Regions from separate parts of the Homo sapiens genome. Here region 1 is linked to region 2. Evidence: fine-mapped expression QTL. Tissue or cell type: whole blood. Region 2 holds a variant in brackets; the other region holds the start of a gene. All regions are shown on one strand. Distances are from middle to middle.

Region 1 (5,147 bases), 42 kb after region 2:
TTACTTGACTTTCTGCAGCTTTTAATTCAATTCACTGTCCTCTCCTTGCCTTCCTGGGATTCCAGGACATAACTCCCCGGGTCTCCTACTTCGCTGACTGATCTTTCTATTTCTGCTGGCTCCTCTGTCTTCACCCATACTTTAAACATTATCATTTTCAGAGCTAATACTACTCCCATATGGCATCCTTATAAGAAGTTGTGAAAGGGGCCAGGCGTGGTGGCTCATGCCTTTAATTCCAGCACTTTGGGAGGCCGAGGTGGGCAGATCACGAGGTCAGGGGTTCAAGACCGGCCTGGCCAACATGGTGAAACCCCGTCTCTCCTAAAAATACAAAAATTAGCCGGGTATGGTGGTGCGTGCCTGTAATCCCAGCTACTCAGGATGCTGAGGCAGGCAAATTGCTTGAACCCAGGAGGTGGAGGTTGCAGTGAGCCGAGATTATGCCACTGCACCCCAGCCTGGGTGACAGAGTGAGACTCATCTCAAAAAAAAAAAAAAAGTAGTGAAAGGTACATCATACTCTGTGCACAGCCTGGGCCAGGGTGCATGGCTTGGCAAGCAGAGCCTGGACTGCATTTTAGTCCCTACTCACCACACTCAGCCTGGTGCCCTTGTGCCATGAACACCCTGTGCAACTGCACATTGCAGCCCAGGGCACTATCTGTGGTCTTCATCTCTTTATTGCTCTATCCTCTTTCCCTCTGTAACCCTGCTGACTTTCATTGTTCCACCTCGAACCTATGTGTCTCATCTAATCTCTAGACATCTTTTCATCTACGTCCTGAACTTCTCTTCCTGGGTGTCCTGTGGGGCATCCTAATTTTGCTATGGCCCAAACTCAGTTCAGATCTGCACACTTGCAAATATGCAAATATGCCTATTTTTCTGTATGCCCTCTCTTGGTTAATGACACCACCTTCCATCTTCTTATTCCGCTGAAAACTTCAAGATTATCAATGCCTCTTCCCTTTCCGCAATGTAAGGCTTTTGTCCTCTCCCAAGTTCACTACTGGAAGAACCTTCTAACCAGTTTCCCTATCTCCAGAGCCCCTCCCCTCCAAATTACTCTCCCCACTGCCACCAGGTTTCTTTTTTTACACAGACTTGAGCATATTTTTCCTTTGTTTCAAAACCCATTTTGTCTTCTAATTAACCATAAGATAAAGTCCAGATGCTCAGGCATTGAACATAAAACCCTTTATATCTTGGCCCAAACCTACAAAACTTTTCCAGTCCTACACCTTGCCTCTGCTCCCAAAACATGCCTTGCTCTTAGCCACATCCGATTATGATGCACCCTTTCTTGAACATGATTTTATTCACTGCGCCTTCGCTGGTGCCTTGAATGCCCTTCTCCTGTTCTTTGACTTGTAAAAATCTCATCCACTCTTCAAGATCATGCTCTCTTGTCACTTCTATTTTCAGGCACCCTTTGGCCCTAATTGACAGTGCTCTCCTCATTGCTTCTACAGTCTACAGCACTATTGGTATGCTACTACAGATAGTCTAAAAGTTGTTTTGCATCTCTTTCCTACTACATTGAGTTTCTTAACGGCAAGATTAAGCTTTGTTCGTCTCTATGTCATCAGCAGTTTGTCCAGTGCCTAGTACATGTTAGATACTGAATAAAAATTTATGACTTGAATTGGGCAGGATGCTTGAACATCATTTTGTGAAAGGACCAGTGATTTCTTTCTGTATAATTTTCAGCCTCTTCTTTTTCAGATATTGAAAGAACCTCAGAATAGGATGGTTGATGGGCCCACTTAAGATAGTTGCTATGTTATAGCCCCAATTTTTAGCCGAGTCTCTCTAGGGACATAGAAACCGTGCTTTCTCAAATGACTGATTGGTGCCTGAGTATGGATTTTTCCAGATATCAGAGTTCCTTAGAACTGCGATGATTTTCAATCTAAGAAGACCTAGATTCTAGGTTACACACACACACACTCAACCTCATCGTTTTGAATAGCAGATACAGGGTTTCAGTGTTTTTGTTTTACTCTCTGTGGGTTCTATCCCAGCATCTTACTAAGGGCTGAGATTTCAGGGCATGAAACACGGAATCAACAAAAACAAGGTTTTTACAATCTCAAAACTTTGGGAAACTGTTGAGTTATCTTGAAAGCCTAGAGGGGGAGCATCAGTTAGTTTTGTAGAGAACTCGGCGAAACAATATTGATGCATACGGCTAGCCTCTGTCATCCTCCTGAGTTAAACCCAACGGGACATGCTGGACTATACAGGAGCCACTCGTGGACTCCGTGAAGACCAGATGGGTAGTGTTCTTGAAATGAGCAGATGTCTATTTGTAGAACTCTGGTAGTAGCTTTGGAGTGGGTGGGGAAGAGCTTGGTTCCCATTCCCCCTCAAAGACAATTATTTGCTTCTGATGAGAATCCAAGCAACAAGTTGCCATTGAGAATGCAGTGATTGGTCAGCAAACGAAGCCTATAGGAAGAGCCTTCGGGTGCATTCCTTGTGACATATCGACCCGTCCTAAGCCCGACGCTTAATTATGGGACCTCTCAGCTCCTCCCTCCCGCCTCGAGCTCCCTTTTGGCTTCTCACAAGGCTTCCTGGGGACGATTCCCCGATGCTAGAGTACTGGGGGTCTGGGCCCACAGGGAACCCGTCAGCCTCCCTCCTTGGAGCGGGCCTGATCCCGGGAGGGCGCCCGCGCGGCCCGGAGGCGGGAACCTAGGGGGAGAAGGCGCCGGCGCCGCCCTGGCGCGCAGACCATCTGTGCGGTCCTGCGCGGGGGCAGGCGCGGCCTCAGCCCCCGGGCGCTGGCGGACCCAGCGCGTCAGCTAGGCCGCCCCCGTCGGCCCTCCCCCGGGCGGGGCCAGCCCCGACGGCGCTGACTCAGCAACGCGAGGGGGGAGTTTTGTCCCTCCGCGGACCCCGTTTCTCCCAGCCTCAGCCTCCCCGCCGCCGCCGCCGCCGCCGCCGCCGAGCCGGTTTCCTTTTTCCGGCGCTCCGGGTGCGAGAGACAGGTCGGGCCCCCTAGGCAGCGAGCCGCAGCGCAATCCCGGCGCTCGCCCAAGGACCCTGGAAGCTACCGTTACCCCGCCGGGCAGCGTGGGCGCCATGAGCAGCTCGGGTGAGGTGCCGCCGTCCCCCGCCGCGGTCCTCTGGAGGAGCTCCGCGGTCCCCGTGAGGCCCGGCGGCGGGGAAGGCCGGGGGCTGGGACCCTTGGCGATGGCGGGGAGGGAGCTTTCGGGGCAGGCTGGATCGGCCTGGAGGGAGACAGCTCCTTGGAGGAGGATGCCGCTTATGGGTTTCCCCGCTGCAGCGGGCACCCCAGGATGCGCTTACGAAGTTAGATTCGGGACGCGGGAGCCCCAGATCAGCCCTTTCCCCCTCTTTTTGCGTTAAAATCCTGTTTGGTCTCCCAACAGGACTGAATTCGGAGAAGGTAGCTGCTCTGATACAGAAACTGAATTCCGACCCCCAGTTCGTACTTGCCCAGAATGTCGGGACCACCCACGACCTGCTGGACATCTGTCTGAAGCGGGCCACGGTGCAGCGCGCGCAGCATGTGTTCCAGCACGCCGTGCCCCAGGAGGGCAAGCCAATCACCAACCAGAAGAGCTCAGGTGTGGGCTTCCACTTCTCCCATACGTTCCTTGACCTTCCTGACAGCGTCCCATTTTGGTGTCTTATTTAAGAGTGGTCTTAAATTCGTACTGAAAGAACTGGTCGTAAATTCGTAAAGAATGAGGCACAGGTACAGGCAGGTCTAAGAACATTACCCATGTGGTTTGTTTTGCTGTTCTGTGGCTTGTTAGTACATGCGGTTAGAGTACAAAAGTGACATGTCCATGAGTATACGTTTGAGTGTAATTGACTATATTATGTTCCAATGCTGTGTGGTTTGTAGCCCGTGTCTTGGAGATGTATGGTCTTGGTCACAAAACAGAACATGTGAAAATGTTCATATCTTTGGAGGACTCCCCAGAAATGCCCTGAAGGCCCTATACTATGAAATAGAAAAGATACAATGTAATTACATTAAAATGTCATCAGATGTTACTTTTAAATATGCTTCTTGGTTACAACTGAAGCTAATGTGCTGATGGGCTCAGTTCCCACCAGTAGATCAGTTTGTAATACAGAAAAAAGTTCTGTTCTCATGCCTTGCTGGTCAAGAAGTCTCGTTTTGCTATCTGCTTTCTAGCACCACTCTCAGAAAAAACAGGTATAGTGAAAGATTGGATATCCAGCAATCTAAATAAGGAGCACATTCTCACAACAAAATTGTACTAAACGGATTTTTTAAAGTCTTTCTATACTTAAAAACGACCCCCCAGTCTATCTATACGGACAGGAAGCACATCAGTGCTTGTTTAGAGTCGGTTAGAACTCACAAAGCACACATTTAACGTGAGTACATTTTATTGTATGTACATTATACCTGAATAAAGTTGATTTTTTAAATGTTAAGGAAAAAGTCAAGACCTTACAATAATTAATGTTTTGCTTTAGAAGAAAGTGCTTGGAGTGGTGTGGGCTCTCAGGCTACAGATGATCCAGTTAGTAATGTCACAGTGGTCCTACATAGTTTAGATTGCAGTGACCCGTTAGGGAACAGGTCAGGTCTTACACATTTTGCAGTGTCACTTTTACATACAAAAGATCCAAATAGCATGTGAGTTGTGTAGTTTATTTTCATGCAGTTTTCACATCACCAGTGCATCCAGATCCCCTCTACTAGAAATATATAGCATATAGAAGAGAGGTGACATACAGGTAAATGTAAGGTAAAGACGAACTAATAGGCACTAGTGACTTTCATAAAACACTATAGTTAACTAGAGTTTTCTTCTTGTTACAAAATTATTTTTGTTTAATGTAGAATATTTGTAAATACCAAGTAAATATTTTTCTTGTATATTTGTCAAGTTTTGTGTGTGTGTGTGTGTTTAATAGTGTTTAATATGCATTGATACCTTATACATTGTTATGTAAGCTACCTATCTTTTTCACTTACCAATATATTATAAACATATTTTCATATTAGTAAAAAGGTTATACCCAATACAAGTCAAAGTTTTTCCCTCAGAATTTTCCCTCAGAAAAGAGATAATTTCCCTGTATTTAAGACCTTAAAAGACTTTTCTAATGGCGCTCTCAGTTAATTT
Region 2 (5,147 bases):
GCCATATTTTCCCTAATTCATGACAAAGCCACCATATTGGCTTGGCTGCAACTGGCATCCTCAATACTTAGAATACTTAGCACATGGTAGATACTCAATAAATATCTGCTGAATACATTTCCCCAACATTCTGATGACAAAAATGTCATACAGAAAAGTTGAAACAATAGTACAATGAAGATCTATAGACCCCTATTTAGTTGAATAAATGTTAACATTTGCTATATTTGCTGTGTGTTTATGTGTTTACTTTTCTTGCTGAATCATTTGAAAGGTAGTTGCAATTATCATGACACTTGACCCATAAATATTTCAGCAGGCATCCCTTGAGAATTAGAACATTCTCTACATAACTGCAATACCATGATCACAACTAATAATAATTAATCATTATTTCCTAATATCACCTAATATCCAATTGTAGAAGTTGCTGGTGGTGCTCTACTCACACATCCTTGGCCTACCCAGAAGTTACCTGCAAAGAGTTCCCATATAGCCAGTGACTTCCTGAGCATCTTTTCCTGGACATGTTGGCCAGCTTGAGAGAGTACACTTTGCCCTCACAGGGCAGGCTGAAAGTGCCAGAGAGTCAACACCTTGAGAGTGTCCCTCAGCCGGAGATGGAGAGAAGTTGCTTCCTTCCCTATCAGTAGTTGATTCTGAGGTATGCTGCACAGAATACAACTTGTCCAAAGCTCCAGGGATATAGTTGCTCACGGTAGTAATCTTTAACACATTCTTTACTAGTTTCCTCCCTTCCCTATCTTACTTCCTTACTATGCTTCCTGAGATCACTTTTTTTTTTTTTTTTTTTTGAGGAAGGGTCTCACTCTCTCGCCCAGATTGGAATGCAGTGGTCCAATCTTGGCTCAACACAACCTCCACCTCCCAGCCTCAAGGGATTCTTCCACCTCAGCCTCCCAAGTAGCTGGGATTACAGGCGCCCGCCACCATGCCTGGCTAATTTTTCTATTTTTAGTAGAGACGGGGTTTCATCACATTGGCCAGGCTGGTCTCGAACTCCTGACCTCAAATGATCCACCCTCCTCGGCCTCCCAAAGTGCTGGGATTAAGGGAGTGAGCCACTCACCGTGCCCGGCCGAGATCACCTTTAAATAAACTATTGGCACTCAAAGCTCTGTCTCAGGGTCTATTTTGGAGGCACCAAGAACCAAAACATCACTCCATTGCTAAATTCATTTTAAAATGACAATCTTGGATCCCTGGAGAGGCAAACTCAAAACCTGTTTGGGTGGTGCTTGCAACCCAGCCAACAGGAGCTGCTCTTAGCTCTGATTTTTGCTTGAACAATGCTATAGTGAGGTTGTGTTGATTTAGGATGCCCTGCTCAGCCTATATTAATAATAATAGTAATAAGAGCTACTGTTTACCAAGAGCTTACTGTGCGGCAGATTCACATGCTTCATTTCATTTAATCCTCACAGTGACTCCGTAGGGAGGGTACTATTACTATTTCCATTGTATTGATGAAGATCCTGAGGCTCATGGAGGTTAAATAACTTTTCAAAGTTACATAGCTAGTAAGAGGCAGATTGCTGGTGTGCTTCAGCAGTGTGTTAAAATGTGTAGATAACTATAAATATTCTTCTGTTATATTTTTGTGTAAATGGGAACAATAGTACTTGGCAGATAAAATTTGCATCGTTAACAATACCATAAACATAGTGTAATGCAAGGATCTCCCAATCAGGTGAGAGCCTCAAGAGGATAAAACTGTTCCCTAGGCCAAGGTGGGCAGATTGCTTAAGGCCGGGAGTTAGAGACCAGCCTAGGAAACATGGCGAAATTTCATCTCTACCAAAAATATATATATTAACAAAGTTTAGCTGGGCATGGTGACTCACGCCAGTAGTCCTAGCTCCTTGGGAGGCTGGGAGCAGAGGTTCAGTCAGCCACAATTGTGCCATTGCATTCCAATCTGGGTGACAGAGTGAAACCCTGCCTCAAAAAACAAAACAAACAACAACAACAAAAAAACGGCTCCCTGCCATGCCTGGCTTGGTACAGCTTATGCACTGGGCTTGGGTTACTAGTGGTAACTAAGACTTTTCCAGCATTATTTAAGTTGTGTAGAATCTTCCAATGTTTTGACCTCTGTTAAAGTCAAACTTCTCTTTGGACTCGTCCCTTCACAATCCCCAGGCTAGATGATCAAAACGCAGCCATCTTACTTAAATATGACAATATTCAGTGAGATGCGCTACAGATTTTTGCACAAGTTCAAGCTTTCTTGGAACAACACATCCCTGTTAGTAATATCCGGCCCCACCTAGTAACCGAGGTAGACATAGAAACTTAGATCTTAAGAAGATGTCTTTCCCAATTACTATCTTCTCTAAGACTCCATAAAGAAAAACAGACTTTGAACCCAAGTTATCTTATTTATTTGACCCTGCTGTCATAAAGCGTTCAAATTCAAGTATTATAAAGGATTGTAACAGGGAAAGCATTTAGGGTTTTCAGGCAGAGGAACAGTTGGCCAAGGAAGTCAGCTTCTCAGAGCTCAAGAGGTAAGTGGTAAGACTGTCTTATATAGAAAGTAGAGAGTCATACAGATTAAAAACAAGCCAAGTGAGGGGAATACATTTTGAAAAGTTGCTGTCTCGGTGGAGTGGAGGGAAAGAGAAGACATAGATTTGTCCCCTTAATAGGGCTGGGTGAGGTCTGGCAAGAAGCCTGCACTCTCAGTTTTTATTGAGTACTTGTAGTGCAGAGCGCTTGAGAAAACTCTACTATTGACCACATTCTGCAGTAATCACTGTTACAACACTGTGATAGAAATCTTTTTGGCAAATATTTAAAATTACAAAAGAATCAATATTAGTAGTAATTGCATCTTACGAAAAGATTGATGCAGGCTTGTCTGCCAGAAAGGGTGAGCCTGGCATGAATGAAACTTACTCCTGTCAGGGCACGCCTGGGACAGGGGAGGAGTAGAGTAGGTATAGGTATATTTCAGCTCTTGTAAATTAATACTGGTGTTAAGGGGAGAGAACTCCCAGTGGCCAGGGACTGGAAAAGATTAACAGCAGCTTTTTTT[T/A]ATTTTTTTATTTTTTATTTTTATTTTTTGAGACCGAGCCTCACTCTGTCGCCCAGGCTGGAGTGCAGTGGCATAATCTTGGCTCACTGCAACCTCCACCTCCCAGGTTCAAGCAATTCTCCTGCCTCAGCCTCCCGAGTAGCTGGGATTACAGGCGCTCGCCACCATGCCTGGCTAATTTTTTTTTTTTTTTTTTGCATTTTTAGTAGAGATGGGGTTTCACTATGTTGGTCAGGCTAGTCTCAAACTCCTGACCTCAGGTAATCCACCTGCCTCAGCTCCTAAAGTGCTGGGATTACAGGCATGAGCCACTGCACCCAGCCTAACAGCAGCTTCTTAAAGGAAAAGAATATTAATCTAGGCAGTAGATTGGGTAGTAGGGTGGTTGAGAGTAGGGTGGTTAAGAGCATGGTCTTGGGAGTCTGGGTTCAAATCCCGACCTTGACATTTACTGTCTGTGGGATCTCAGGCAAATTACATAGTCTCTTTAAATCTATAGAAACGACCTCAGGAGGGTTGTTAGGAGGCTTAATTGTGACTGAAATGATGTATGTAAAGTGTTTAGCACAGTCCCTGTTGCGCAGAAAGTTTTCCGTATGTGGTTCGCTATATTTATAGTAGTACTCTTGAAAGGAAGTAATGAATATATGTTTTTTTCCCAGATGGAAATGGAGAATATCTTAGGGAGAGGGAGAGTTGAAGCAAAAGCAAGAAGGGAGAAAGGACACCTTTATTATTTATTATTTTTAGTCCATTGGGTCAAGGGGAAGAGAGAGAGAGAATAGTGGGAGAAAGACAAGATTAACATGGTTTAAACTAGAGGCCATGTTTCAATTGAGGCTTTTCTACGTACACACCATTTGAATCTATGGGATTTGGAGTAGTCTCAAAAACTCTCTATTATCAGAGAACATCTTTACAAAAATGACCCAAGAAAAACTTTCAGAACAAGAATTACTTTGTTCAGTAGGGACTGTCTGAGAATGAGACAAGTTTCATTCTGCTAAAATGAAATTCTATCAGTTTCTCTAGGGAAGACTGGTTTCATCTTCCCCAGGGCACCCTGACGCTGCTCTATCTGTCATAGCCTATTTCCTGTGGTTTTATGTTGCTTTTAAAAAAAATTTCTTACTACTAAATGTACTTTGAACTTAGTCAGACAGGGTTGTTTAATTAAAAGCTAGAAGTAGTACCGTTATAGCTGGGATGATTCATCTGGGACTTCACTTTAAATGCATAATAGACAGAAGGAAGGTTCACGAACTCATTGCAGACCAAAGTACAAAACCAACTGCACTATTTTTCCCTTAGTAGATCTGAGTTTAACTCATTAAAGATGGCATGGAAGAGCAGTGTCATAATGCAAATGGGAAGATTTCTTCTCTTAGTAATTTTATTTCTGCCACGTGAGATGACAAGTAAGTTAAAGTTCTTTTTGGCCTCTTTTTAGATAAAGAAAAATTTCCGATTAAGAAAAGTGATCAATGGGCATTGGATATATCCTTAAATTCCAAATTGGAATGACTACACAGTTAGCATGGCTCACAGTACAGGAGTCAACTAACAATAAAAAATCAAATGGAGGCCAGGCGGGTGGCTCACGCCTGTAATCCCAACACTTTGGGAGGCCGAGGCAGGTGAATCATGAGGTCAGGAGATCGAGACCATCCTGGCTAACACGGTGAAACCCCATCTCTACTAAAAATACAAAAAATTAGCCTGGTGTGCTGGCAGGCGCCTGTAGTTCCAGCTACTCGGGTGGCTGAGGCAGGAGAATGGCGTGAACCCAGGAGGTGGAGCTTGCAGTGAGTGAGCCGAGATTACGTCACTGTACTCCAGCCTGGGCGACAGGGCGAGACTCCGTCTCAAAAAAAAAAAAAAAAAAATCAAATGGAAAAATATTGTTTTTAGGGTTTTATTATTACAAGACAAGGTGAAGTATTCTATTCTCTCCAGAGCCACCACCAGAATCCTCCTACATTTTAATGCATTTTATTACTAATGTTACCCCAAATAATCATCTGTTTATCTGAACATACCATTTCACATGAAAATCTTTCCAGCATTTGCTCTCCTACCACTCTTT

Evidence for each region. PIP is the estimated chance that this variant, and not a neighbour inherited with it, causes the effect.
Region 1: it holds the start of BLMH, and the variant in region 2 is fine-mapped to the expression of BLMH in whole blood (TOPMed, PIP above 0.99).

Annotation. Positions count from the first base shown.
Region 1 is chr17:30,289,766-30,294,912 of GRCh38, reverse strand. It overlaps BLMH (bleomycin hydrolase), which reads left to right and starts at 2,969. Exons shown (of 12, transcript NM_000386.4): 1 at 2,969-3,106; 2 at 3,405-3,602. The coding sequence starts at 3,094. It overlaps LOC124903971 (a long non-coding RNA gene), which reads right to left and starts at 223. Exons shown (of 2, transcript XR_007065700.1): 1 at 1-223. RefSeq lists silencers at 2,559-2,968, 3,169-3,238 and an enhancer at 3,689-3,748.
Region 2 is chr17:30,331,384-30,336,530 of GRCh38, reverse strand. TMIGD1 (transmembrane and immunoglobulin domain containing 1) reads left to right here and starts at 2,474. Exons shown (of 7, transcript NM_206832.3): 1 at 2,474-2,531; 2 at 4,373-4,479. The coding sequence starts at 4,398. The variant T/A (reference allele first, on the strand shown) is at 3,062.